4 linked regions of the Homo sapiens genome follow. The protein of the gene in region 1 interacts with the protein of each later gene in a pairwise test. Each region holds a gene or a part of one and is shown in the gene's direction. Other genes may lie near its edges.

Evidence for each region.
Region 2: the proteins of RBFOX2 (region 1) and SPMIP9 interact in binary tests that used the Homo sapiens proteins (3 or more experiments, as listed by UniProt).
Region 3: the proteins of RBFOX2 (region 1) and C1orf94 interact in binary tests that used the Homo sapiens proteins (3 or more experiments, as listed by UniProt).
Region 4: the proteins of RBFOX2 (region 1) and HNRNPH1 interact in binary tests that used the Homo sapiens proteins (3 or more experiments, as listed by UniProt).

What each region holds. Positions count from the first base shown.
Region 1 is NC_000022.11:36,025,806-36,033,295, reverse strand, and holds the start of RBFOX2 (RNA binding protein fox-1 homolog 2), read left to right. Parts: upstream 1-4,471; 5' UTR 4,472-4,870; coding exon 4,871-5,056; intron 5,057-6,212; exon of another isoform or gene 6,213-6,232; coding exon of another isoform or gene 6,233-6,244; intron 6,245-7,490. UniProt on the Homo sapiens protein: RNA-binding protein that regulates alternative splicing events by binding to 5'-UGCAUGU-3' elements. Prevents binding of U2AF2 to the 3'-splice site.
Region 2 is NC_000002.12:88,520,012-88,527,648, forward strand, and holds the start of SPMIP9 (protein SPMIP9), read left to right. Parts: upstream 1-4,637; 5' UTR 4,638-4,771; exon of another isoform or gene 4,772-4,795; intron 4,796-5,398; exon of another isoform or gene 5,399-5,488; intron 5,489-5,623; 5' UTR 5,624-5,633; coding exon 5,634-5,660; intron 5,661-6,393; coding exon 6,394-6,486; intron 6,487-7,637. UniProt on the Homo sapiens protein: Microtubule inner protein (MIP) part of the dynein-decorated doublet microtubules (DMTs) in flagella axoneme.
Region 3 is NC_000001.11:34,179,884-34,186,910, forward strand, and holds part of C1orf94 (uncharacterized protein C1orf94), read left to right. Parts: intron 1-7,027.
Region 4 is NC_000005.10:179,620,671-179,628,283, reverse strand, and holds the start of HNRNPH1 (heterogeneous nuclear ribonucleoprotein H), read left to right. Parts: upstream 1-4,612; 5' UTR 4,613-4,689; intron 4,690-4,882; exon of another isoform or gene 4,883-5,003; intron 5,004-5,096; exon of another isoform or gene 5,097-5,119; 5' UTR 5,120-5,150; coding exon 5,151-5,247; intron 5,248-6,307; exon of another isoform or gene 6,308-6,441; intron 6,442-6,886; coding exon 6,887-7,042; intron 7,043-7,248; coding exon 7,249-7,392; intron 7,393-7,613. UniProt on the Homo sapiens protein: This protein is a component of the heterogeneous nuclear ribonucleoprotein (hnRNP) complexes which provide the substrate for the processing events that pre-mRNAs undergo before becoming functional, translatable mRNAs in the cytoplasm.

The sequences.
Region 1 (7,490 bases):
TCCTGGCTAACATGGTGAAACCCTGTCTCTACTAAAAATACAAAAAATTAGCCGGGTGTGGTGGTAGACGCCTGTAGTCCCAGCTACTCGGGAGGCTGAGGCAGGAGAACGGCGTGAACCCGAGAGGCGGAGCTTGCAGTCAGCCAAGATTGCACCACTGCACTCCAGCCTGCGCAACGGAGCAAGACTCTGTCTCAAAAAAAAAAAAAAAAGAAAAAAAAAAGAAAAGAAATGATCTGGTCTTTGTGCTGCCATGGATGCATTTTGCCTCTTCTATGATTTGTAGGCGTTTAACTCTCCTCTTTCTCCTTAAATACATAATGCTTGTTTCCAGGGCAGGGTCCAATTTTTCTTTGTTCTGCCTGGTCATTCAGACATTTCTATACTGCATTGCTCTGTTTCTAAGGGACTTGAGCGTTACCTGAATAACAAAAATTTGAGTCACTGGCAGCCCCGATCTCAAATCTCATTTCTTGCTGGGTCAGGGGACAGCCCAGGAAGATCTAACATCATTAAGATTTCAGTAGTTTGGCAAGGCAAGCAGGGAAGGGAGAATTCTCTTTTTTTGGAGAGAGAGTCTCACTCTGTAGCCCAGGCTGGAATGCAGTGGCGCGATATCGGCTCACTGCAACCTCTGCCTTCCAGATTCAAGCAATTCTACTGGCTCAGCCTCTTGAGTAGCTGGGATTACAGGCAGCTGTCACCACACCTGGCTAAATTTTTTGTATTTTTAGTAGAAATGGGGTTTCACCATTTTGCCCAGTCTGGTCTTGAACTCCTGACCTCAAGTGATCTGCCCGCTTCGGCCTCCTAAAGTGCTGGGATTACAGGTGTGAGCCACCATGCCCAGTTGGGAAGGGAGAATTCTTATGCTACCAGTTCAATAAGTAAAAATTTCAGAAGACCAACTGCTGATGTCCCTAGGTTAAAGAAAAAAAAAAAAAAGACAAAACCCGCTGTTGTTTCATAGGCCACCAGGAAATATCCTGGTTATCCCTCAAAGCCATACTGCTTGGTTGAACAGGATCAGGTTGTGGGGTACTGCCAAGTGGAAACCGCTGACTTAGGTTGGGGCTAATTCAGCACAAGAACAAGCTTGTAGGCACTTGGACTTCCACCTTGGTGGTCCAAATAATAATACTAAGAGATGTGTCAGGGCTGGGCGTGGTGGCTCACGCCTGTAATCCCAGCACTTTGGGAGGCTGAGGCGGGAGGATCAGTTGAGGCCAAGAGTTTGAGACCAGCCTGACCAACATGGTGAAACCCTGTCTCTGCTAAAAATACACAAAGTTAGCTGGGCATGGTGGTGCGTGACTCTAATCCCAGCTACTTGGCAGGCTGAGGCAGGAGAATCGCTTGAATCTGGGAGGCGGGGGTTGCAGTGAGCTGAGATTGGGCCACTGCACTCCAGCCTGGGAGACAGTGAGATCCTGTCTCAAAAAAAAGAAGAAGAAGAAGAAGAAAGAAGAAGAAAGAAGAAAGAAGAAAGAAGAAAGAAGAAAGAAGAAAGAAGAAGAAGAAGAAGAAGTTGTTTAAGGCTTCTCTTTCCAAGGCCCCTGGTTAAGCTTACTGTATCACTAACCAAATTAGTTGATGAATAATTACCACCTATTAAGCAGTTACTATGTTAGGCACTGTGCTAAGTGTTTACTTTTGTCCCATTTAATCCTTAGAACAACACTGTGACTATTATTGTTATCCTACAAATGAGGAATGGAAGGCTTAGTGAAACAAAGTAATTTGCCCAGCATAGTGGTTGCACCAAGGGGTTACTGGGGTGCTTTGCTTGCCGCATGTGAATCTCTAGCAGCCCCACTCAAGTCACCTTACATAATTAAAAAAAACCCAATAATAATGATAATGATATTCTTTGATCTTGACAATGAATGTTTTTTCACTCTCATTTAAAATGTGAATAAAGGTCAGGCCTGGTGGTTCATGCCTGTAATCCCAGTACTTCGGGAGGCCAAAGGGGGGGAATCACTTGAGGTCAGGAGTTCGAGACCAGCCTGGCCAACATGGTGAAACCCTGTCTCTACTAAAAATACAAAAAATTAGCCGGGCGTGGTGGTGGGCGCCTGTAATCACAGCTCCTTGGGAAGTTGAGGCACAAGAATTGCTTGAACCCAGGAGGTGGAGGTTGCAGTGAGCCGAGATCACACCACTGCACTCCAGTCTGGGTGACAGAGCGAGACTCCATCTGAAAAAAAAAAAGTGAATAAAGTGATAATGGTACTACTAATAAGCTATTATTAGTTAGCTATAAGTGTTAGCTGTAACACTTATGGAGCGCTTATCCTAAATCATTCCGTTCAAAGTTCTAAACGTGATAACATTAAATTCTTACAATAATCTTTTCAGGAAGGTATTATTGTTATCCTAATTTGCAGATGAAGAAACTGAGACACAGAGGGGGTAAGTAGCTGTCACAAGGCATCATGACTTGCAGGTGGCAGAGCTAAAACTCTGCTATTTTTACTGATTTATAACACAGCCTAAGTAATACAAACAATATGCTCAATACAACAACTCACCTTCAAGGCAAGTCCTCCCGACTTCCCTTCCAACCAGTCTGCAATCCCCAAACACCTTTTATATGGAAGTTCTTAGTCACCACTGGTCCCAGATTACGTGGGCAGGAGGTGGGAAGCCTGCGTTCTCATCTGGGTTGGTCTGACTCTGAAGCAGGGATCTTTACTGTTGTACTGTTCCAGCCCCAGCCAGGTTAAACCCAGGTTCAAAGGCCAAATCACACACTGGTTGGAAATGACCTTGGAAATCATCTAACCCAGCGTTTCTCAACCTCCGCACTATTGACATTTGGGGTTGGATAACTCTCCTGGGGGGACCGTCCTGTGCATGATAGGATGTCAAGCAACATTCCTGGCTTCTACACACTAGATGCCAGCAGCACCTCCCCACTGTAACAATCAAAAATGCCTTCAGTCGGCCAGGCGCGGCAGCTAACTCCTGTAATCTCAGCACTTTGGGAGGCCGAGGCAGGCGGATCACCTGAAGTCAGGAGTTCGAGACCAGCCTGGCCAACATGGTGAAACCCCATCTCTACTAAAAATACAAAAATTAGTTGGTGGCGCACACCTGTAGTCCCAGCTACTGGGGAGGCTGAGGCAGGAGAATCGCTTGAACCCAGGAGGCAGAGGTTGCAGTCAGCCGAGATCGCGCCACTGCACTTAAGCCTGGGCGACAGAGCGAGACTCTGTCTCAAAAAAAAAAAAAAAAAAAAAAAAAAAAATGCCTTCAGTCACTGACAAATGTGGGAGTGGAGGTGGTGGAATGGCAAAATTTCTCCTTGGTTGAAAGCCACTGATCCAAACCATCTCATTTTACAAATGATGGAGCTGAGGTCCAAAGAGATGAAGTAACTTGTTTAAGCTAGTTAGCAAAGCCAAGATTAGAATCCAGGTTATTCACGCAATATCCTTTTATTTCTATAACGTACAGGGCACGATATGGAACTCAGAGGAAGTCACTGCAGTCCTTGTCCTCACAGTCTGGTAGGGGAGAGAATCTATTGCACAGATATCTCTATCTCCACGAAGTTGGTAAGTCATAAAGTGCTCCTCAGGCAGCAAGGTACGAAGAAAGAGAATATGTTCTCGTGTTCTGAATTCCGGATCTGCCACTTTTTTGCTGCAGGATTTAACTAAGGTTCAGTTTCATCATCAATGAAATGGAGATCATGGTATCTACTTATATCACCAGTTTGAAACGGGTCTGTGGATGCATTGTGCAAACTCTAAAGCTCTTACAAACATCGGGTATTATTACTAACTTCATTAGGAATGTGAGTTATATTAGAGTAAAAGCTCTCAGAACTGGGGTGAACCATAGAGGGGTGGCTTCATTCCTCGACCTTCCAATTTGAGACATTTTTTCTTCTGCGGGAGGGGAAGCAGGCAAATAGCCTGCCTCTCACAGAGTGCCCATTCCCTCTCCGGGAACCAAGGTGCTCAGGCGAGTAAACTCAGGACTTAACTCTGTACAACTAGTACCGCAAGCAGGAGCCACTCCCTGGCCTTCGGGTCTCTCAAGCCCCGCCTGCTCCAGGATACGGCCCCGCCCAGAAAGGAGACAGACCCCGCCCCCCCCGCGCTGCCCCGCACTCCAGCCGCGCTGTGCCTCCAGGACAATCCCAGGCCCGTGCCGGAGATTCCCGAGCTTCCCCGATCGCTTCCCGGCCTCCCTCGGGCAGCCAGCGAGGAGACTACGGAGATTGCCGAGGGGGCCTGGCCCCGCCCCCCCCGCGGGCCGCCACCGCCCCCCTCGCCGTAGCCTCCCGCGCGGGCTGGAGTTCTACATCCCGGTCCCTCCCTCCCTCCCTCTTTCTCTCTCCCCGCCTTCCCGGTGCTGCCACAGTGGCGGGTCGGAGGATCCCGGCCAGTCAGCTCGTTCCTGCCTCGCGCCCCTCCTCCCCCCAAAATAAACAGCCCTCCCCACGCCTCGGGAGCCCGGACCGCCCCCTTCCTCCCTCGGCCGGCGTGCTGTGAGGGAGAGTGTGAGCCAGCGCGGCCGGTGGGCGAGCTCCGGGAGTGCGAGAGGCGGGGCGGCGCGGCGGGCCGGGCCGGGTTTCGCGTGTGCGTGCGGGGGCGCGAGCGAGTGCTCATCACGACCCGCCAGTGGCCCCGCGCCGACAACCCGGCGGGCGGGCGGGCGGGGAGCAAGCGGTCAGGCAAGGAGCGGCGGCCGCGAGGCGCGGAGGGGCGCGGAGTCCGCTCGCGCGCACGCACGCACGCACGCGGGGGCGGGGGCAGGCGCGCGCCCGCCTGTCGCGACAGTCGGGGCCGAGGCCCAGGGGGAGGTGGCCTGTCGCGGGTCGCCCGGCTCCCGGAGGCGAGGGGGGCGCGGGCGGATGGCGGAGGGCGCCCAGCCGCATCAGCCGCCTCAGCTCGGGCCCGGCGCCGCCGCCCGGGGCATGAAGCGGGAGTCGGAGCTGGAGCTGCCGGTGCCCGGAGCGGGAGGAGACGGAGCCGATCCCGGCCTGAGCAAGCGGCCGCGCACTGAGGAGGCGGCGGCCGACGGTGGCGGCGGGATGCAGGTGACCGCGCGGGACGGGGCGCCCAGTTATTGCGGGGGTGGGCGTGAGGGTCGACACCGGGCTCCCCGGCTTGGAGAGAGGGAGGGCCTCCGGGAGTCCTGGGTTGGAGGTGGGATGGGGGGCCATTCGGGGCCTGGTTGGAAGGTGGGGCGAGCTCGGGCTAGGAACGAAGGTTGCAGGACTGAACCTGGTGTGCCCGAGAGGGTCCTGATTCCTGAGGGGCCAGGAGGCACGACGAGTGGATAGGTTTTGGGGGGAAATCGAACAAGGTTGAGATGGATTCCATTTTTTCAAATCCTTCCTTAGTGCCTTGGGGTGGAGTGGAAGCCGGGAAATCCTGGCTTCTCTGGACTGAGTCGAGGAAAAGGAGATCTGGTGGGAAACCTCCCGAGAAGAGGGAGTACCTTTTGGCAGCCCTGGGCACACGCTGGGATGGGGAAGAGAAGTGGCATTTCAATGAGAGGAGTGAAAAGAAAACTCCTCGAGAGAGCCCCGAGGGGATGTGGCTGAGATTGTGGGTTAAATCACACAGAGTGTGAGAAGTACAAGGAGTTTGGTAATGTTATGGGGACACGGTGGTGCTCAGTCTCATTTACTTTGTGGAGCATACTAATGAGTCTGAAGGGAGACACTAGACATGTCCCTCCTGTTCTTTGCCAATTGCATTCTACATCACCAGGACACAAAATAGCTCTTTAATGTCCCGGGCTATAAAAAAAATTTTTTTATAGGGCTATTAGAAGACTGGATTCTCAATTCTGGATTGAAAGATAAACGTGGTTAATTTGGGTAGGGAATGGGAAAGGTATTGATGTCAGCTGACTTCATAGTTTTGAAGAAGACCTTGAAACCTTTGGAGGTTTTACGATTTGGTCTTTGCCCAGAAAATACTGCTATGACATGATGAGTCTCACCTACCAACAGTTGTGCAGACTTGTGCCTAATTCTCTCGGAGTCATAGGATGTTAGAGGGATGCTAGGAGGACTAGACATCATCTTTTCCAGGGGTTCTTAACCTGGGAAGACTTGGAAGATTCTTACTCATAGTAGGTGATGTGCACTTTTTGGTGGAGGAGAGTCAATAGTTTTCATCTTTGTTTTTTTTGGAGGAGATTCAAGTCCCAGCTTGTTTTAACCACCTTATTTTATAGATGGGGAATCAGAAGTCCAGAGAAGATGGTGACTTGGGTAAGGCCACCCAGTTAGCTAATAGTAAAACTAGAACTAGAAGCCTGGTCTTCTAATTCCTATTCCTGTGCTGTCTCCATTACACCACTCTTGGAAATCTCTGCAGTGCTAAAAGACTTCCTGTGCTCTGCTCCCTGCTTTTCAAGCCTCTGCCTGACTTCCTGTGTTAGGGACAGAGCTGTACTTAAGCCTAGCATGTTTGTTGTATGCTTCTTGGTCTCCTTTGCAGAGTTTACCCTGTTACTTCTGTTGATTTAGGTAAAGTGACCCTCTTGGTGTTTATTTTTGAATTCTTTTGTTTTGTTTGCCTGCTTTTATTTTCCATTAGAACTCTGTCAGGCAGAGGGATTGTGAGAAGTAAAAGCTCAGGGCCATGGCAAAAAAGACAGGAATGTGGGAGACTTCAGGTGAGGTGAGCTAATATTGGATGATAAGGAGGGAAGACTGGATGTAGGTGCTGGTGAGCAGGTTCTACTTGGTGTGTGTGTGTGTGTGTGTGTGTGTGTGTGTATGTATTCATTTATCATTTCTGTCAATCCTAGTTAATAGTGAGACCCCCGTCCCTTTCCCTCATTTACTCCTGGGGCCTATTATCTGTTGGTTGCCTTCAAACTGGCTAAAGATAGTGATATTTGGAAATGGAGCAGTGTGTAGGGACTTCGCAGGGGTGTGCAGAGGAAAGAGTGGTTAGGTCCTTGGGGGTACAAATTGGCAGCTGAGAGTTATCCCTCCGAGAATCCTTTTTTCACTTCTTGTATTTTATTTTCTTTCTATACATTCTCTTTTTTTTTTTTTTGCCCAGGCTGGAGTGCAATGGCACGATCTCGGCTCACTGCAACCTCCACCTCCACCTCCACCTCTGGGTTCAAGGGATTCTCCTGCCTCAGCTTCCTGAGTAGATGGGATTACAGGCGTCTGCCACCATGCCCAGCTAATTTTTCTTATTTTTAGTAGAGAGGGGGTTTCACCAGGTTGGCCAGGCTGGTCTCGAACTCCTGACCTCAGGTGATTCACCCACCTCAGCCTCCCAAAATGTTGGGATTACAGGTGTGAGCCACCACACCCGGCCTTCTATACATTCCCATTGTTGTAGGTCCATTCCCCTATGTCATACAGGTATTCAAATCATTGATTTAGGCCCTGCCTTCAACTAGCTGAATGGTTCTGCAGAAATCTTTCATTTTGGGGCCTCTGTTTTCCTTAGTTGTAAAATAAAGTATGTGTACAAGATGATTTCCCTTGTAAT
Region 2 (7,637 bases), on another chromosome or scaffold:
TTCTCATGGTTATAAAGGCTGTGAAGTACAAGGTCAAGGGGCCATATCTGGTGACGGCTTTCTTGCTGGTGGGGACCCTTCAGAGTCCCAGAGCAGAGCAGAGCATCACCTGGTGAGGGGCTGAGCATGCTGACGTGCTAGCTCAGGTCTCTTTTCTTCTTATAAAGACACCAGTTGCCCTCCCATGATAACCCATTAATCCATTAACCCATTAATTCATTAATTCATGAAGAGCCCTCATGACCCAGTCACCTTGTAAAGTCCCCACCTCTCAATGCTGCCACATAGATTAAATTTCAACATGAGTTTTGGAGGGGACAATATTCAAACCATAGCACTTCCCAAACCAATGCCTCCTCCTGCCTTTCCCACCTCATCAAAGGACCATCAAGCTCCAATGGCTTATTTGAGAAATCTGGGAATCTTTTTGACCCTACTCTGTCTTGCCACTGCCTCTTTCTGATAATGATTAAATCCTATGCGGTCTACTTTCCTAACGTCCCTTGAACCTACTCACTTCTCTCCATATCTACTGCCATCTCATCCAACTGTCCCAGCCATCATCATCATCATCCAGTGGCCTACAATGGATAAAGTCAAAGTTCTTCCCATACGTGCGTGATGAGGTAGTATCTCCTCTCCAGCCTCATCTGGAGCTGCCCTTGTCCCTCCTGGCTCTGCTGCAGCAGAGCAGGCTCTCTCCTACACGTGGGAAGTCTATTTCCTGCCCTAGGGCAGTGAACAGAAGTCTCCTTCCCCTTTAGAACTGAGTTAAAATGTCATTACTTGAGGCAAGTTTTCTCTGACCAGATTCCAAGACTGGATCAACCTCCGATACTCCACATTTTTTCATGGCACTTGTCAAAATTGTAATGAAAGACTCACTTGTGTGATTATTTGCATATTTATCTCCCATCGTACTGTAACTTCGTAAGGACAGAGACCATTTCTATTTTATTTCGTTACCATAATTCCAGGCCCTTGCACAATGCCTGAGATACAGCAGGAACTCAAAAAATATGGGGGCAAATATTGGTTTGAAGAACACCAAGCACTTTCACAGACATATCTGTTGACTTCCTACACTCTTTTCAGGTAGGTGTTACCTCTGTTTTACAGATGATCAAACTGCCTTTTATTAATCTTAGATGATTTACCCAAAGACATGAGGATAGCAAGTATCAGAATTTGAATTCAGGACTCCAAAAATGTACTTGGTAATATTTTTCTGAAAAATACATACTTGGGGCACAAAAATCACTTATGCCCCAGCTGTCTCCTCCACTCTTATCCCTGTGGCCACTCTGTTCTTTGCCTTAGCCTTTGCCATCTCTTTCAGTTTTATTTAATTCACAAGCACTTCTTAAATCCCCATGCTTAAGTGTTGGTGCACTGAGGAATAAAAAGTAAGATCCAGCTCTTTCCCTCAAGAATCCCACAGTTAGTTAGGAGAAATAACTATGTGAGCACTCCAACCTTGAATTTGTAGGTATTGTTTCAGCTGGCAGTTACAGAAACTCAACTGAAATTGGCTTTAGCAAGAAAAGGAATGTACTGGCTCACATAAACTGCGAAGTGTAGATGTAGATCAAGCTTGCTTCAGGCATGGTTATATCCAGGGGCTCAGTGTTAGTCAAAATGCTGTTGCTGTTTCTATCTCTGGGATAGTCTTGTCTTTGTGCTGATTTTATTATTGGCCTGGCTTTCTCTACACAGTGGCTTCAGGCAGCCTCAGGCTCACATGGTTCTTAGTGCCTGCTGTTTCAGCTCTTCCTTCCCAAGAGCTAGGGATGGCACTCATCAGTCCAGCTTGGATCATGAGCCTCCCCCTGAATCAATCACTGTGGCCTAGAGAGTGGAATGTTCTGGTGGCAACATGCCCATTTAGAGTTGGAGTAGGATCAGCACCACCCATGCCATGTGATCCCCAAAGGGGAGTGTCTTAGTTCATTTTTTGTTGCTGTAACAGAATACCACAGACTAGATAATTTGTAAAAAAAAAAAAAAAAAAAAAAAAAAAAAAAAGTTTAAGGCTGGGCCTGGTGGCTCACGCCTGTAATCCTAGCACTTTGGGAGGCCGAGGCGGGCAGATGACTTGAGTTCAGGAGTTCCAGACCAGCCTGGCCAATGTGGTGAAACCTTATCTCTACTAAAAATACAAAAAAAGTTACTTCGGCATGGTGGTGCATGCCAATACTCCTAGTTACTCAGGAGGCTGAGGTGGGAGGATTGCTTGAACCCAAGAGGTGGAGGTTGCAGTGAACTAAGATCACGTCACTGCACACTTCAGCCTGGGCAACAGAGCAAGACTCCATCTCAATAAACAACAACAACAACAAAACCCAGAAGTTTATTTGGCTCACAGTTTTGGAGGTTAGGAAGTTCAAGGGCATGACAGCAGCTTCTGGCAAGGCCTTTTCATACTGTATCATAACGTGGTACAAAAGTGGGAGGGCAAGCGAGTACACGCAAAAGTGGCGAAACATGAGGGGCGGCCTCACTTTACAACAACTGGCTCTTGGGTTAACTAATCCAGTCCTGAGAGAGTGATAACTCACTCACTATGGTGAGAATTAGCGCAGTCCCAAGAGAGTGGCATTAATCCCTCTTAACCACCTCATCAAATCTTAAAGGCCTCACCTCCCAACACTGCCATGCTGGGGACCAAATTTCTAACACATTAATTCTGTGGACACACTCAAAGAAAGGCAGGAAATAATTATCTGAGGGGAAGTTGGCATTCCATTAAAGAAGAGGAATGCCAGAGATTCCCAGCCAACTCAATCTCTTGACCTTGCCCATCATTCACTCCTTTCTAGGCACATGGCTGGTGATTCTTGTTCTCAGTGGTTCCTGCCTTTAGGCTTTGCACTAGCTGATTGCTGTGTCTAGAACCCCTTATTCTCAGATCTTTGCATGGCTGGTTCTTTCCCATGCTTCAGATCTCTACTATAACATCACCCTCTCAGAGAGACCTCCTTGGACCTCCCATCTGAAGTGCCCACTAGTCATCCTCTTGTGCATCGCCTGGCTTATTTGCTCTATCTAAGGGAGGGTGACCTGCTTATTATTGTGTTTGCTCTGTGTTTTCATCTCACCAGAATGTAAGCAGAGATTTCCATCTATTTTTGTTCTTGAATCTATAAAGTTCAGAACAATGCCCAAACACAAAAGAAGTGCTCAGTAAATATTGGTTGGATAAATGAGTCTATGGTGGCACCTAGTGAGATAAAGGAAAGCTTTATAGAGGAGGTGTCCCTTAAAGAAGGTGGATTATTAAAATTATATATATAATATATGTAACATATATGTTTAATATTATATATAAAATTAAATATACATATTTGTATATAATTACATAAAATATATAAAATACAAATATATATACAATTTCATATATATAACAAAGTTTATCATTTTAGTCACTTTTAAGTGAATAATTCAGTGGCATTAAGTACATTCACAATGGGCAACCATCACCACCATCCATTCCCAGAACTTTTTTTAATATTCTGAAACAGAAACTTCATATCCATTAAACAGTAACTCCCCATTCCTCTCCTCAGTCTCTGGCAACTATCATTCTACTTTCTGTCTCTATGAATTGTACTTCTCTAGGTACCTCGCAGAAGTGGAATCATGCAGCATTTTTCTTTTTGTGACCGGCTTATTTTGCTTTATTTTGCTTAGCATAATGTCCTCAAGGTTTATCCATGCTGTAGCACGTGTCAGAATTGCCTTCCCTTTTTTTTTTTTTTTTTAATTTTGTTTTGAGACAGAGTGTCGCTCTGTTACACAGGCTGGAGTGCAGTGGTGTGATCTCGGCTCACTGCAACCTCTGCCTCCCGAGTTGAAGCAATTCTTCTGCCTCAGCCTCCCGAGTAGCTGGGACTACAGGCGTGCACCACCACACCCGGCTAATTTTTGTATTTTTAGTAGAGACGGGGTTTCACCATGTTAGTCAGGCTGGTCTGGAACTTCTGACCTCAGGCAAACTGCCTGCCTCGGCCTCCCAAGTTGCTGGGATTACCAGCGTGAGCCACCGTGCCTGGCCTCCCTTTTAAGGCTGAATAATATTCCATTGTACGTAGATACCAAATCCATTCATCTCTGAAGGACATGTAAGTTGTTTCTACCTTTTGACTATTGTGAACCATGCTGTTGTGAACGTTGGTGTACAGGTATCCATTTGAGCCCTTGCTTTCAATTCTTTTTTATTTATAACTAGAAGTGGAATTTCTCCACATCCTCATCAACGCTTGTTTCTGTATTTTTTTTTTATTGTAGCCACACACTATGAATGTCAAAAAGTGACATTTTGACAATTTTGAGCCAGGCTTTCAGGCAGCAGAGGCCTGGGTGGCAGTCTGTGGTGTGAAGTGGATTTAGTCACACACAGTCTGATGTTGTAAACCACATGGGCTCTATTTACCTTCCTCTCCTAGGACTAGGAAGATTCTGTAGAGTATCGGAAAGCATTGGTTCATGTGCTGCCAGGATTCATGTTGGCTCTGGTGAGCCAGGGACAGGGAACTGACCTGCAGGCAGCCCAAGCAGCCACCTACTCACCTCACAATGACAGGGACCCTCATCATACAGGTCAGGGCTCAACTCAAAGACAGGCGTGGCAGTGGGACACAGCAACAGGACTCTCCATGTGGCAAGGGCACCTGGAGGTGGGAGGGCAGGAGCGTCGTCTTGCCCTGGCAGAAGAAGCGGTAGGCTCTGTCTGCGTGGCAGCTGGTCCCCAGCCCTAGGAGAGAAGCTGTCTGTGAGCAAAAGGGAGGGGATACAGGTGTTGGTTGAGGTCTGGGCACCACCCTGCTGGGCCACAGTCTGCTGAAGAGAGTGGGGCTTAGGGGAGGGTTCCCTGGGAATGCAGTGGAGTACCCCTTAAGGATCTAGGGGCCACGCACACAAGGAGTCTGTGCAGCGAGGCCCTCGCTAGGACTTCAGGGCTGGAAGGGAGGGGTCAGTGTTAGGCCTACAAACTACTGTTGTTCAACTGGGAATGCAGAGTCTTGCAACTTTCTTCACCTTGGATACTCCCCTGTGAATCAAGGTGGCTCTGAGTCCTAGGCCTGGGCCTTCCTCTATCCAGGGGAAGTGCTGAGGCCTGGTTCAGAGGAACATGTGAGCTGGAGCCAGTTCATACTGGCTCACAAGAGCCCATCCTGTGCATATCTGTGCAACTCAGTGCCAATGACATTATGTTGATAGCCTGAAATGAGCCATGATAGGAGCATTTACACCACAGAAATTGGCAGATGCTATAAACCCAGGGCCTATTTTCCCTGAAAACATGGTTGTTAAACATTTACCAGCACTTCACTTGCCCTAGGATCAGCTATACCTCTCAAACAGTAAACCTGATCAGTAAATGTGATCTTCTAAACAGCCCTCATTCCTCCTGAGTCCTGCTCCAGCCCCTTTGTCCCAGGGACCCTGGTATCACCACCAACCCCTTGATGATGGAGTGACATGCAGGGTAGGAGCCCAGGGAAGATGGGGAGGAGTGGGCTAAGAAAGCTGGGGCAGCCATGCTTGGTTGGCACAGCTTGAAGATAGTGGCTACTTTCCTTGTCTGTGGCAGAGCAGGGCTAAACAACTTGTCTGTGTCTAGGTCGTTTGCCATGGCAGGTGTGAAATACCCGGGACAGGTGAGTGATGTGGGTTTCTGTCCCCTGTGACGGTCTCAGGGTTGGGTAGCCTCAGCAAGGCCCTGGAAGGGCCAGGCTCTTTCTAGAAGCTCATCTTTCTGTAATGATAGTTTTGGGTTTTGTGGGTTTTTTTTTTTTTTGGTACAAGAAGAAGAAGAGAACTGAGTTTTCTTCTTTATAATTTTCTGGGGGTTCAGTTATTTACTCAGCATGCACTTATTAGGCACCCACAGTGTGCCAGGCCCTGTCCTGGGCTTTGGGACTGCAGAGATGTCTAAGTACACTAAACCTGCTCTAGTGTACTTCATTAAATCCATCACAGTACACCCTGCAAGTGCTGTTGTGGAGGGTTGTAAGGAACAAGGAAAGGGTTTAACTCTTGGGAGGTGGAGAATAAAAGGGTGGGAGAGATGTTTTGGGGAAGTGACATTTAGTCTGGGTCTTGGAGGATAGGTAGGAGTTTGCTAGTCTGTGAGGAGGGCAACTTGCATTTCCATCAGGAGATAGGAAAGAGCACATGCCAGGCCCATGCAAGTGGGAGGAAGTAAGGCTGGAGTAGAGAAGGCAGGAAGGTGGCGGGATGGTAAAAATGGGTCACAGCCAGATCATTTGGGCTCTGAATGTCAGGCCCCAAAGTCGGCCTTTGTCCTACAAACAGCAAGAAGCCATTGAATGGCTTTAAGTGGAGGAGTGACGAGGGAATCTCTTGTTTTATATTCTCCTTGTGCTTTAGGACCCTGTGGATTTAGACATATACCAAAGCTCCCACATGGTCGACTATCAGCCCTACAGGAAGCACAAATACTCCAGGGTCACGCCGCAAGAGGTAGGAAGGCACGCAAGTCCTGTCATTCAATCAACTGCCTACTGAAATCCTCTCTGTTGCTTCATTTGTATTACAAATGTGGACATTTGGGCCCTTGTTAGAACAATATCCAATGCCAGGAGATATGACTTAGAGATCTTTTCTGTGCATGTGCATGTATGTGTGTGTATTTTTTTTTTCTTTTTGAGAAGGAGTCTTACTCTGTCACCCAGGCTGGAGTGCAGTGGCGCGATCTCGGCTCACTACAACCTCTGCCGCCTGCCTGGATTCAAGCGATTCTCCTGCCTCAACTTCCTGAGTAGCTGGGATTACAGGTGCCTGCCACTGCGTCAGCTAATTTTTGTATTTTTAGTAGAGATGGGATTTCACCATCCTGGCCAGGCTGATCTTGAACTCCTGACCTCGTGATCCACCTGCCTCGGCCTCCCAAAGTGCTAGAATTACAGGCGTGAGCCACCGTGGCCGGCCATGTGTGTATGTTTTCAAATGTACATCAAATACGTCATGCATACAAAAAATTGTAAATAATACACATTTAGAGTTAAAATTACACTGATAAACACCGATGTAACCATTACAGACCGCTTAAAACATGGCACATTAACATTAGCAGTACCTTGTAGCCTCTTGGTAACCCGCAAACTTACCCCTCCTCCCATCTCCAGAAGTGGTTAATCATTCCCTTGTAGGCCAGGCACAGTGGCTCACACCTGGAATCCCAGCATTTTGGGAGGCAGAGGCGGCCAGGAGTTGAGACCAGGGGTTTGAGACCAGGAGTTTGAGGCCAGCAGTTCGAGACCAGCCTGGCTGACATGGCGAAATCCCGTCTCTATAAAAAATACAAAAATTAGCCTGGCTTGTTGGTGCACGCTTGTATTTTCAGCTGCGTGGAAGGCTGAGACATGAGAATTGCTTGAACCTGGGAGGTGGGGCGAGACTCTATCCCCCCCAAAAAAATCATTCCCTTATGTGTTTTTCTAAAAACTCATTTTACCTTATATGTATATATTCTTTGGTTTTGCCTTTTTGAACTTTATTACATATTGGATTTGTACCCTTCCACAATTGTCACTTTTTGCTAAACATTATGGCATATTATTCATTTTCTGCTGCATAGTATTACATTGCATGAATATGCCACAGTGTACCGT
Region 3 (7,027 bases), on another chromosome or scaffold:
TTTATCAGTTTTACTTACTAGAGTTCTGAGTAGGGCTGAATTTGAAAAACATGTTTCTGCTATTGAGAAAAGAGATAGGAAACCAATGACTTAGACGAATAAACGACATCCTAATTGTCAACCAAATAGAACACAATGAGCTATTCTTAAAATAAAGGCGGTGTGCTGGTGGAGTCAGATAACTCTGGTTTCAGATTCCATTTCAGCCCCATGCCATTTGAAGAATTTGTTACTCTTTAATTTATCTAAACTTTGGTTTCCTCATCTGCCAAATGGAGATTAATACTATACATTTTGTAGGGTTGTTGGAATGATTAAATGGGATATTTAAACATTTATGGTAATAATTCAGATTTGTAAAAATTCCTTGCAATTCAGATGTGATCATTTCTTTAAGCTCTACAATTATTGCATGAGGTAGGTACTCTTTTAAACTTTCCATCTCTTTTTACTTTTTATTATGCAAATTTTCAAACACATAGAATAATAATATGGTGAATATCTATGTGTCTATCACTGAGTTTCAATAATTATCACATTGTGCCATTCTGGTTTCAATTGCTACCTCCACCCCTCCATTTATAAGTGAAATTACTTTTACAGATAACGTGGCTGAGGTTTGGAGGGGTTAATTTCTTTGCCCAAGCTCCTACAGTTAGGAAGTAGTAGAGTTTCAGAAATGAAACCCAAGACCGCCTTGGCCCTGAGGCAATAATGTCGGCTGTCCTGTCTTAGAATCTGGGGCATCTTTGAATAGTCAAAATAGTTGGGAGTCCCATATACTGAATGATCACACACAGAGTGAAAAGCCAGGGAGCTGTTCTTACTATTTCTAGAATGCCTTCAGGTGCACAAGATATCTCTCAGCTGGTCTTTCTGCTGCTTAATTTGTAGACCTGGTTTTGGTGGTGTTTTCTTGTATTGTGGTAGATAGGTAAGTGCATTCTACAATTCTTTTTGGCCAGAATTTGTTTTTCTTGACTCTGCACCTATTTATCATAGGAACCTAGACATTTCAAATTTGAAAGAGATTTTTGAAGCCATCTTCCGCTGCTCGAATCCCCTCCTTACTGTCCCTGCCAAGTGGTGCACTTGTACCACTTGGTACAGTTTATCAGATGGGGAGCTTACCACTTCCCTTTGCTGCCCCTTCCCTTGCTATGAACCCCCTCAAAATACCTTTTGCTTTCTATCACTGAAATATGTCTCTATCAAACTAATTCCCATTGATCTGGATTCTGCCCTTAGTACTCCAAGCCAAATCTATGTCTTTTTTCTTTCGATACCCCTTTGGATAGTGAAAGACAGCAAGACAGCAACAATATTCCTCCCAGAATGTTTTTGTCTCTATAAGCTAACCACCTCTGGTTTTCTAAGTTTCTCCCCATGTGCCAATTTGGTTAGTTTCCTGTCCACACTGTTGGTCCTTGTGGCAGTGTAACTTTGAAAGCCAAGTACAATAATCCAGGGGTGATCCAATCCATGCAGATTTGATCCTCCCTGTCTGCATTCTGTTTCCTGTTAATGACAACCAATACTACACTCACTTTTTTCCCCAAGTCGACTTTCACTCTGTGGACACATTTTCAATCTCTTAATTCATTCATTCAATTATTCATTCAACAGATATTTATTAAACATCTACTATATGCTAGAACTGTGTGAGAAACTAGGGGGATGGAGCTGTGAACTCCATTAATCCCTGCCTTCCTAGAGCTCACATTCTAGTATAGGAGAAAAAAGAAGCAAGTAAATACAAAAGCTATGATATCTTCAGAATGTGAAAAGAATGGTATTCCCAGTGGAGGAGACCCATAAGAAACACACAAAAATAAACAAGATAATTTCAGTGACAACTGTGATAATGGAAATAGAGCAGAGGGAAGTGATAGGAAGAGCTCCTTTAGTCTGGGTGTCAAGGAAGGCTTCTCTGAGGAGATGTGATTATCTGGGCTGAGACCTGGGTTCTAAGAAGGAGCCAGTCAAGGGAAGTTCTGGAAAGAACATTTGGGCAAAATGGAGAGCAAGGGCCAGGCATGGTGGCTAAAGCCTGCAATCCCAACACTTTGGGAGGCTGAGGTGGGCAGAACGCTTGAGCCCAGGAGTTCAAGACCAGCCTGGGCAACATGGCAAGACCTCATCTCTACAAAAAATACAAAAATTAGCTGGGCATGGTGGCACACACCTGTAGTTCTAGCTACTCGGGAGGGTGAAGCGAAAGGAACACTTGAGCTCAGGAAAGTCGAGGCTGCAATGAGCCAAGATTGCACTACTGCACTCCAGCCTGGGCGACAGAGTGAGACCCTGTCTCAAAACAAAACCAAAAGGAAAAGCAAATGCAAAGACTGTGAGGTGGGAGTGAGCTTTGAGAGGGACAGCGAGACGGGAGAGTCAGGAGGGATGGGGACATGGCCATGGTATAAGTATAACAGAGACAGGCAGGCAAGGCCTCAGGAGGCCTGGAGGATCACTGCGGGGAGTTCAGATTTTATTCCACATGTTATGGAACACTTTTGCAGGTTTTTAGGAAGGGGTGTGACATGAACAGATTCACTAATGTTTGAATCTCTGTCCAGCTTCTGTGTGGAGATGGTTTGTAAGTGTGTGGGAGAGGAAGTGGGAGGCCTCTGGGAAGATACTGTCAGAGTCCAGGGGAGGCCTAATGGTGGCAGTGGCTGGGTAGGAGTGACTGCAGTAGGGATGGAAAAAGTGGAGGATTCAACTGTGTGTTTTAAGATGAGCCAATGGACCTACTCATGATTTGGGTACACAAACAGACACATTGAGGCTCATGCTCTGCTTCACGCACGAGTTCACTTGACAAACAAGGATGGGGGCATGCATCACTATCAATGTGACTGGGGTGTTGAGACCGAACACTGGCAAACTCAAGGTGGGGAGTGTAGGGCCTCAGAGCAAAGGATTCCAACCTGTGGCCCATGGGGTCTCTGAAGTAATTCCCCAAATGCTGAGAGCTGGGAGGATGTCTTTCCGGCAAAAGGGTGTAGAGAAGCTTTCCTCAGATTTTCAAAGAGGTGTTGACCCCTCCAAGAGGAGAAAACACTAGCCAAGAGCATTAGACTCCAAAGATCTCCAGAGCTGGTTTCTAGTCTAAGACATCAGCCTGAGTTCCATGTCTGAGTCTTGTCTTTATCACTCCCATCACCAAGTTTCAAGCTTTCAAAATAATAATGATAATAAAAGAGGCTATGTATTCCAAGCTTGAGCCCCTGGTTGGACGGTGTGCCATTTACAAAGGTGGGGAAGAAATGGGGAGCAATGGGTTTTGGGGGAGAAATCAATAGTTCTGTCTAGTGCTGATTTAACTCCAAAATCTGGTTCAGTTATCTTTTAGTTAGTCTTAAGTTTGGGCTTAGAGAATTGTGGCAAGCCACTTATTCAAGGATTACTTATTCATTCATTCCCCTAATCTCTAAAACTTCAAAGCCTCAGAATGAGGTCTTTGGATTTGCTGTTGACTCCGTTGCCCTAACTACAGAATGACATTTGTTCATTTCTTCATTCATGAATTCATTCAACAAACACAATTGCCTTCGCAGTACCAGGCTGTATGATGGGTCCCAGGGACACAGAGATAAGCAGAACAGAAGCCTTTCCTCAAAGAGCTCCCAGTCTAGTGGGTGGCATGAACACAGATACATCTGACAACAATGACATTCAACAAATATTGCCAGGTGCGGTGGCTTATGCCTATAATCCCAGCACTTTGGGAGGCCGAGGTGGGTGGATCACTTGAGGTCAGGAGTTTTGAGATCAGCCTGGCTAACATGGTAAAACCCTGTCTCTACTAAAAATACAAAAATCAGCTGAGCGTGGTGGCAGGTGCCTATAATCCCAGCTACTCAGGAGGCTGAGGCAGAAGAATTGATTGAACCCAGGAGGCAGAGGTTGCAGTGAGCCGAGATTGTGCCATTGCACTCCAGTCTGGGTAACAAGAGCAAAACTCCGTCTCAAAAAAAAAAAAAAATTAGTATGCACCTATTACTGAAATGTCTGAAAAAAATACAATGGTGGAAAAGCTGGGGACAGTCTCTGACCTCCTTTATGAACTTTCAACATCTTGCAAAAGGCAGATCACAACACACTATAGTAAGTGTTCTGGTGATGAAGTGCCAGTGCCATGGAAGCGCACTGAGGGGACACATGACTGAACATTGTACTTGACTACTGGACTGGGCTTGGTACTTAGGGAAGTCTTCCTCTGAGGGAAGCAATCTGAAGCAGCAACAGATGAGACCCCTGCACTGTGTGATGAAAGATGCGGGTGTAGTCCGCAGGTAGCAGGGATGTCATGATTAATAACTGCAAAGGTTTCCATAGTTATGTCCCCCAGCTAGGTCTTGAGAAGAGAGAAAGAACAGCCTATGGAAAGAGCCCAGCAGCAGGCGCAGGGAAAGATGAGAAGTTACATGGGAGTGAAGTGTAGCATGTGTTAGTGACCGGGAGAAGGTGGCTCGAGCTTGCTGGGTGTGGTTGGCTTCCCTGGATGCTTCCAGGCCCTCTGTCAGCACCCAAGACTTTCCCATTTACCTGTCATAACAAACTTGGTCTGCAGAGTGGAAAGGCTTTGGTGAGCATTATTCCAAGCCAGACTCAGGTAGGGAGATAAATCTACTGAAATAAAAGAAATCTGTTTAAGCATTTTTTGAAAAACAGAAGTGGTTTATTGATTGGCAGCTTTCTGAGGCTATTTGTTGCAAGAAGGAAGAAGGCTTTTTTGCACTTATTTTGGTAAACTTTCACTGTTGGCTTCCATTGGCCAGTTCTCCACACTGGTGAGCAAGTGATATTTGGGAATCCACTCGGCTTCCTTGCTTGAATGGCTCTCCCAACAAACATCTCTTTGTGCTACTGTTATTTAAACAATTAGGTGAACCCGACTTCTCTGGAAAAGTTGCTTGGAATACATAGCCTCTTTTGTTTTTTTTGGTTTTTTTTTTAGCATTATTCTTTAAAAAGCTTGAAACCTGGTGATGGGAGTGATAAAGACAAGACTCAGATACGGAAACTCAGGCTGATGTCTCAGACTAGAAGCCAGCTCTGAAGATCTTTGGAGTCTAATCTCAACTAGTGTTTTCTCCTCTTGGAGGGGTCAATACCTCTTTGAAAATCTGAGAAAAAGCTTCTGTGCAGCTTTTGTCTGAAACACATCCTCACATCTCTCAGTATTTGGGAATGATTTCAGAGACCCCGTGGGCCACAAGTTGGAACCCTTTGCTCTGAGACCCAACCCTTAAGCAAGTGTCTCCCTCTCTCTTTATTTTACTTTATTTTTAAATTTATTTTTATTTTTTAGATGGAGTCTCGCTCTGTCACCCAGGCTGGAGTGCAGTGGCGCGATCTTGGCTCACTGCAACCTCCACCTCCCGGGTTCAAGCAATTCTCCTGCCTCAGCCTCCCAAGTAGCTGAGATTACAGGCATGCACCTCCATGCCTGGCTAATTTTTGTATTTTTAGTAGAGACAGGGTTTCACCATATTAGTCAGTCTGGTCTCGGACTCCTGATCTCAGGTGATCCACCTGGCTTGGCCTCTCAAAGTGCTGGGATTATAGGCGTGAGCCCTTGCACCCAGCCTTTCCCTCTCTTGAGCTTCCCAATGCTGGGTCTCAGCACCCCAGTCCCATTGACACTGATGCACCCCTGTTCTTGTTTGTCAAGTGAGCTAGTGCTGGCAGACACTGGCTCTTCCCTCCTCCAGCCTGCCACACGTCCTGGCAGTCCCCCTTCATGATGGCCTTTGGTGCCTTGCCTCCCTGCTCGTCTCTCCTCTGCCACCCTCACCACATCTCTTCTCACTGCATTGGGTGCCTTTCCCTCCAGGATGCCCTCCACCCTTCACCAATTTCATCTTCTGAAGCAGGTCAACAGCACTGCTCAGACATCTCTCATGGCTCGCCTTGTCCTCTGGCCCCTTGGGCCTGGTTTTCAGGGGTCTCTGTAGTGGCCCTGCCTCCATCTCTAGATGCACGTCTTGCTGGTCTCCTGCACATGCTCTATAAACCAACAAGAGCTACCAGCAGGTGCATGTCACCTTGCCTTTGCTCATGTTATTCCACTACCAGGAATGCCCTTCTCCCATATCTCTGTCTATCTAAATCTTATCCATCCTTAAGGACCTAGAATAAGTGTGTTGTCCTCTGAATTCTTTGTTGCTCACATCATTCAACATTTTTCTTTCTCTTTTTCCCACATTCCTCTTTTTAATTGAAATAAACAACTATGTCCCACCTCTTTCCTAAGTGTTTTAAGGTGGCCCAGATAACAAAAAATAAGGAGACAGGTGGATTAGAGTTCCAGCACACTTTCTAGCTGTAAGCAAGTTCCCCAAACTTTCTGTGCCCTATTTTCCTCATCTGAAAAAATGGGAAAAGTCACAGCGACTATTTCAAGGGATTACTATGGAAGCAAATGAAATGATATATGTAGAGCTCACACAGCACTGGGAATAAGAGAAGGACTCGATGTTCATCATCATCATCACCATTCCACCATCATCATTGTCATTATCATGGATAAAATAACAGGACATGATTGATATGGGACAAGGAGATATATATGCCAGGAAACTTAGGCTGAAGGGAAACTGCTCAACTGATAACAGCATCTGGTTTGAGATTCTTGGCAGCCAGGGCATAAAGGGAGATCATAGCATTCGGTTTTCATAACTCATATTGTCTTCTAAGAGAAAGCAGAAGGGGTCATCATAAGAGACAAATGCTTCCCCAGCTCTGAGAGCTACATGGGATAGATCTTTTGAGGACGATAGAATGGAAGAATCTGTTTAAAATCAGCTCTCTTCTTGACCATTGGCCAGAGGGAAGGACACAGCCCCTTAATCGGGGCTATCAGCCCAGTTCCAGTGTGGGATTCTGATGAGGTGGTGGGCACCTGGCACATATCGTGTGCTGCCTTGTGGCAACAATTCCTCTTCCGCTACTGCACTATGGGCTTCTTAAGGGCAAGGTCTGTGTCTTACTCATCTTTGTCTCCCCAGTGCCCAGCTGA
Region 4 (7,613 bases), on another chromosome or scaffold:
TGTGTCTTACAAATGATACTAAAGATAACAAATATGTGCTCAATCTCTGGATGGGAAAGGGCTTTCTAAACTTAAAGACAAACCTCAAAGGAACATATCCATGGCTTTGACATCAAGAAATTTAAAACTTCTATATGTCCAAATATTAAAAAGCAATCATAGGCCGGGTGCAGTGGCTCACACCTGTAATCACAGCACTTTGGGAGGCTAAGGTGGATGGATCACTTGAGGTTCGGAGTTCCAGATCAACCTGGCCAACATGGTGAAACCCCATCTCTACTAAAAATACAAAAATTAGCCGGGTGTGATGGTGCATGCCTGTAATCACAGCTATTTGGTATTTTTTTCCTTTTTTTTTTTTTGCAATGGAATCTCCCTCTGTTGCCCAGGCTGGAGTACAGTGGCAGGATCTCTGCTCACTGCAACCTCCACATCCTGGGTTCAAGTGATTCTCCTGCCTCAGCCTCCCAAGTAGCTGGGATTACAGGCGCCCACCACCATGCCCGGCTAATTTTTGTATTTTTGGTAGAGACAGGGTTTCACCATGTTGGCCAACATGTCTGAAACTCCTGACATCAAGTTATCCACCCACCTCAGCCTCCCAAAGTGCTGGGATTACAAGTGTGAGCCATTGCACCTGGCATATCCCAGCAATTTGGGAGATTGAGGCACAAGAATTGCTTGAACCCGGGAGGTGGAGGTTGCAGTGAGCCGAGATCACATACCTGCACTCCAACCTGAGTGACGAAGTGAGACCCTGTCTTAAAAAAAAAAAAGGCATAAATCAGGGCCGAGCATCATGGCTCACATGTAGAATAATCCCAGGGCTTTGAGAGGCCAAGGTGGGAGAATTGCTTGACGCCAGGAATTCAAGACTAGCCTGGGCAACATAGTGAGACCCCCATCACTACAAAAAAAAAAAAAATTAGTCGGGCCTGGTTGAAAGTGCCTTTAGTCCCAGCTACTCAGGAGGCTGAGCTTGGAGGATGGCTTGAGCCCAGGAGTTCAAGGCTGCAGTGAGTTATGATTGTGTCACTGCACGGAACAAGACATTGTCTGTAAAACAAACAAAAAATACCACCACAAAACCACAAAAATAATTAAAAGGTAAGCAAACTGAGAAGAATGTCTGGGGCAACTATCCTAAGGGCTAACAGCCTTAATAAAGAGCTCTGTAAACTGTAAGAAGTATACGAAGACATTAGCCGGGCGCAGTGGCTCACACCTATAATCCCAGCACTTTGGGAGCCCGAGGTGGGCGGATCATGAGGTTAGGAGATCGAGACCATCCTGGCTAACACGGTGAAACCCCGTCTCTAGTAAAAATACAAGAAAATTAGCTGGGCGTGGTGGCGGGCGCCTGTCGTCCCAGCTACTCTACTCGGGAGGCTGAGGCAGGAGAATGGTGTGAACCTGGGAGGCGGAGCTTGCAGTGAGCGGAGATCGCGCCATTGTACTCCAGCCTGGGCGACAGAGCGAGACTCCGTCTCAAAAAAAAAAAAAAAAAGAAGTATACCAAGACATAAAGACCACTGAGGCAAGATGATGAATTTTTTTTTTTTTTTTTAAAGACAGAGTCCTGCTCTGTTGCCCAGGCAGGAGTGCAGTGGTGCAATCTCTGCTCACTGCAACCTCCACCTCCCAGGTTCAAGTGATTCTCCTGCCTCAGCCTCCTGAGTAGCTGGGATTACAGGCACGCGACACCATGCCCGGCTACTTTTTGTATTTTTAGTAGAGACGGGGTTTCACCATGTTGGTCAGGCTGGTCTCTAACTCCTGAACTCTTGATCCACCTGCCTCGGCCTCCCAAAGTGCTGGGATTACAGGCATGAGCCCCACGCGTGGGCTGATGATTAACTTTTTATTTAAAAAAACCTTTGGCCGAGCATGGTGGCTCATGCTTGTAATCTCAGTACTTTGGGAGGCCGAGGCAGGCAGATCACTTGAGGTCAGGAGTTCCAGACCAGCCTGGCCAACATGGCAAAACCCCATCTCAACTAAAACTTAAAAAAAAGTAGCCAGGTGTGGTGGCACACACCTGTAATCCCTCTACTTGGGAGGCTAAGGCATGAGAATTGCTTGAACCTAGGAGGCAGAGGTTGCAGTGAGCCAAGATTGCACCACTGTACTCCAGCCTGGGTGACAGAGTTAGACTGTCTCAAAAACAAAACCAAACAAAAAAACCTTTCATTGCCAGCCATGGTGGCTCACACCTGTAATCCCAGCACTTTCTCTGCGAGGCTGAGGTGGAATGATTCCTTGAGCCCAAGAATTCAAGACCAGCCTGGGCAACAAAATGAGACCCCATTGCTACAAAAAATAAATAAATAAATAAATAAATAAATAAATAATCTGAGCAAGGTGGCACATGCCTGTGGTCCTACCTACTCAGGAGGCTGAGGCAGGAGGATTGTTTGAGCCCAGAAGGTAGAGGCTGTGGTGAGCCATGTTTGCACCACTGCACTCCAGCCTGGGTGACGGGCTGTGTCTCAAACAAACAAATAAAAAATAAAAATTTAAAAACCTTGTTTTAATATAAGTTGGACAATTTATATATAAGAGAATTGGCTATAAGTGTATGAAATGTATTCTACCTTACTACTATTCTTTTTTTTTTTTTTTTTGAGACGGAGTTTTGCTCTTATTGCCCAGGCTGGAGTGCAATGGCGTGATCTCAGCTGACTGCAACTGCTGCCTCCTGGGTTTAAGTGATTCTCCTGCCTCAGTCTTGCCAAGTGGTTGGGATTACAGGCATGCATCACCATGCCTGGCTAATTTTTTTTTTTTTTTTTTTTTGAGAGGGAGTCTTTGTAGCCCAGGCTGGAGGGCAGTGGTGTGATCTCAGCTCACTGCTTCCTCTGCCTCCTGGGTTCAGGTGATTCTCCTGCCTCAGCCTCCAGAGTAGCTGGGATTACAGGCGTGTGCATGCATAGATAATTTTTGTATCTTTAGTAGAGATGGGGTTTCACCATGTTGGCCAAGCTGGTCTGAAACTCCTGATCTCAAGTGATCTGCCTGCCTCGGCCTCCCAAAATGCTGGTATTACACGAGTGAGCCACCGCACCTGGCCGGACTCTCTTCTTGATTACCTCAGCCAAAGTGCCTTCTGAAATGGTACCACAGGTGTGTGCTTCTAGTTCAGTTTGTAGTAGAGGGCCTGGTATGTACCGTCATTCACCCTGCCTGCTCCATCTGCATCCCCCTCACATCCAGCAAGAGTTTTCCTTTACACAGGGTTTACGGCTCCCCTGCTGATCACCTGCCAAAGCCTTCTCTCGGAGATAACACCCTTGCCAAGGCCTAAGTGGCCTTTGAAGATCAGGCCCTGCTTAGCTCTGGGCTCCTGTCTTTCTTTTGATGTCCTCTCTACTTTTTCTCAAACCTGTCAAAACTGGATTCGGACTCTGTGGCACTGGGGTTGGAAACATGCTTTGTCCGCATCTTCCCAGGGTGGCACTCAGGCTTGCACTAGCTAAGGTAGCTCTGCGGCAGGGTCCAGCACTACCTTATTGTTAATTTGTGTATTGTCTGTGTCCACTAAAGCTGGGGTGAGGAAGGCAGCCAAATCAGACATGGGGAGGCCTGGGAGGCTACGGCATCTTAGGTTTTGGGCAGTGCTGCTAGAAACCACGAACATTAGTCATCTCGCAGCATGTGTGCACATGGGGTGACCCGGGGGCCTCCTCGAATGCAGCGTCTACGCCTGGTGAATGGACGCACTCTTACCAATTCTGCTCTGGGAGATGCAGCGGTAACCTACCGAGCGCAGAGGCCGGCGCGCACCCGTGGAGCCCGCGCTCGCGATCCCTCCTCGTGCCAGGGCCCCAGGGCAGTCAAGGCCTGCCGACCGTTAGGCGGGTCAAGGGGTACACAGGGTGCGAATTCGTTAGGCAAAAGCTGGGTACAGGCGCGAGCCACAGGCACGGAAACCTCGCGCCGACCGGGGCCCTAGGCCCGACGACGGCAGGTAAGGGGAAGTGGAGGCACACAGGGCTGGGACGTGCCCCAGGCACCATACGGGTGGCTTCGGGCGCGGGACGTCCGCAGCCCCGCAGCTCCCAGGACGTTCGACAATCTGCAGCTGACCAGCTTCGGCCGGTTTGGGGATAAAGGGAAGACAGGCGGCGCGGGGAGTGGGAACGCCTGAAGGCCGCGCCCCTCCTTTCAGGTCGGCCAGGAGCGCGCCGGTAAGAGCCTGGGGGCAAGGGGTAGAAAGACGCCCACCTCATCACAACCCAGAGCTCGGGACTCCTATACAGTCCCATAGGGAACAGGCGGCCGCCATTCCCCTCCCCCACGCTGGCGGGTAAGGCTAGAGAACGGTTTCAAGGAAGACGCATGCGCATGAAATAATTATAAACCGCTAGGACTCCGAAGTTCAATATTCGCGGGAAGGCGCAGGCGCAACAAAAAGCCCGGCGGGTTTATGGGTGGGGGTGCTGAGCCCAAAACCCAAGCGTGTAATAATCCGCCGGCGGGAGGTGGGCTGGCTCTTGAAATTACGCATGCGCCAGAGCTCTTTGTGACGCAACGGGGCGGTGCGGGCAGCTGGCTGCGCGTGCGCAGAACTCGCACAAGGGACCTTATTTAGGTTGCGCAGGCGCCCGCTGGCCATTTCGTCTTAGCCACGCAGAAGTCGCGTGTCTAGGTGAGTCGCGGTGGGTCCTCGCTTGCAGTTCAGCGACCACGGTGGGTACCGTTTTTGCGAGGATTGTTTGTCCCCATATCTCTGGGAGGGCCACGGGGACCTTGGCGAGCTGCAGGCTGCCGTCGAGAGCCGCGAGTGGTTCGCTGAATCTCGGCACCGCCGCTGAGGCCTGCAGGCCGCGCCGACTCTATTGTGTGAGAAGTCGGAGGAGGCGGAGCGGAAGCGGCCGCCGCCATTTCCTTTCCTCTACGCTGGCTCTCGGCCCGGGCCCCCACGGTTCGGGGCGCCGACAGCTGTTGCTCAGGACAGCTTTGGGGGTCCGGTCGCCGGACGAGGAGGTGTTGGAGTCGCCGGGGTGGGTGCATCCGCCCGGTTTTTGCTCCGTGGGGGGGCGGTGCGGGCCCGGGCGCGCCTCGGAGGCGAAGGACAGCTTAATTGGCGCTCTCAGTTCTGGTCCTCCCCGCTTTGCAGTTTGTTTCGACGCCGGACCGCGTAAGAGACGATGATGTTGGGCACGGAAGGTGGAGAGGGATTCGTGGTGAAGGTCCGGGGCTTGCCCTGGTCTTGCTCGGCCGATGAAGTGCAGAGGTTTTTTTCTGGTGAGTTAGAACTAGGACGCGGGAGTTCGAGTTCGAGGCCGGGGCGGGCGGGCTGGCGGGCGGCCGGGCTGGGGCGGGGCGGGGCGGGGCGGGCCGGGCCGGGCCGGGCCGGGTGGGACCCGGGGCGCCCCCTGGCGAGGCGCGGGCGACTACACTCACCGCTGTGCTGCTCGCGCCCGGCGGCCCGCTGTTACGCAATGGAAATTTCGAAAGCCCCGCCCGTCCTCCTGGCCCTTGGGGGAGTGCGGCAGGTTTGGCAGACTTTGTTTTCTTTACCTATCTTTGAACACCAGCTTTTCTTTTATGGGTGTCTTTTTTTCTTTTTCTTTTGAGTTGGAGTCTCTGTCACCCAAGCTGGAGTGCAGTGGCGCGTTCTCGGCTCACTGCAACCTCCGCCTCCTGGGTTCAAGCGATTCTCCTGCCTCAGTCTCCCGAGTGTCTGGGACTAGAGGCGCGCACCGCCACGCCCGGCTAATTTTTGTATTTTTAGTAGAGACGGGGTTTCACTATTTTGGCCAGGCTGGTCTCGAACATCTGACCTCAAGTGATCCGCCCACCTCGGTTTCCCAAAATGCTGGGATTACAGGCGTGAGCCACCGCGCCTGGCCCGGGTGTCTTTTTTCGAAAGGATAAATTGGCATAGGTGGGATTTCCTCCTCAATCTTGAGAAAATGGCCGAGTGATTAGACAAATAATAGTAATGTTTTGCAATATCTTGAAGTGTAACCTCTTGTTTCCAGTTTTGGTGTTTTCTTAAAAAGGAGCATTCTTCGGAAAGTTAAAATGTCACGTCTTAATTTCAGTTTTCCTAATCAAGATTTGATAATTGAAGAGTGTTTTCTTATCTAGTTCTTAATCTGGCTCACTATACAGTTGAAGACACTGAAGCCCAGGGAAGTGTTTTTGCAGTACATAGGTTTCCTGAATATTTTCTATCAGAATGTCCTTGTTCCTATTATTAGACTGGGAAAAAGAAATTAGACTGATTAAAATTCTATTTGGATGAAATTAACAGCTTTTGGCAAGACGTTTGTAGTATTGACTTACTATCTGAATTTAGCGTTGGTAACGGAAAGCGACCTGTAAAACAAGAACCAAGTACGCTGGAAGCCGCCTTGCAGGGGGCAACACTGGGTTTGGCTTCAGCTGTGCAACTTGGAGCATTTTAGCTTGGTAACACTGATCCCCTTTCAGGTGAGTATTGGGCTTGTAATTTGAATTTGAATGAGAAACCGTAATGTGGCTACTGGTAAGGTAAAACGGATAAATGCCCCAGACCAAAACAGCTCGCAACGAAGTATGTTTGCCGTAAAGTCACACAGTCCAGGCTTGATAATCTTCTGAGAAATTGATAAAAGATGTGTGATGTAGACATGAGTAGCAAGGACTAAAGAGATAAATTCATTCTGAAACTGCTTTGAATATTGTATGTTGTTGATGGGTTGGAAATATATCACCTTAGGAATGAGTTTGTTTTTTTTTAATTGGAGTTTTAGGAGTTGGTAATATCGTGGTCAGTATATATAGGCTTCACAAGTTATGTAATTTGTAGTGGGGACATGGAATAGACATTTCATCTGTGTCACCCAGAGGTGGTTTTAGGTTTTAAATTCTGTATTAACGGTTGTTTTCTTTCCAGACTGCAAAATTCAAAATGGGGCTCAAGGTATTCGTTTCATCTACACCAGAGAAGGCAGACCAAGTGGCGAGGCTTTTGTTGAACTTGAATCAGAAGATGAAGTCAAATTGGCCCTGAAAAAAGACAGAGAAACTATGGGACACAGATATGTTGAAGGTTTGATTTACATTGCCCTAGTTACAGTAAATAAAGCATTAAACAATAGAGGTCTCACCCCTTCTGAATTTTAGGTATTTGACTGCATGGAAATGGTCATCTAAGGGAGTTTGTGGCAGCTCTTCCTAGCTTATCTAAAGACCCAGGAAGTCTGAACTTTGTTATCTAATTTTCCAAAAGTGACTAATTCTAAGCACCTCTTTCAGTATTCAAGTCAAACAACGTTGAAATGGATTGGGTGTTGAAGCATACTGGTCCAAATAGTCCTGACACGGCCAATGATGGCTTTGTACGGCTTAGAGGACTTCCCTTTGGATGTAGCAAGGAAGAAATTGTTCAGTTCTTCTCAGGTATGTAGTCATGTTTGTTGCTGAGCAGTGAGTTTTGGCTAGCTTATGGCAAGGTGATTTAATAGACGTTAAAGTTGAGTAGCTTAGGTATTTCAGTAGGTTGTAAATTGCCAATGAATTAATGTTTTCTTCCTAGAGACCTTCAAATAATTTAAGCCCATCTTAAAGGTGGAAATGAAGTACTTCCAAAATGTTAACTTTGCCTATATTTAGTATTATAG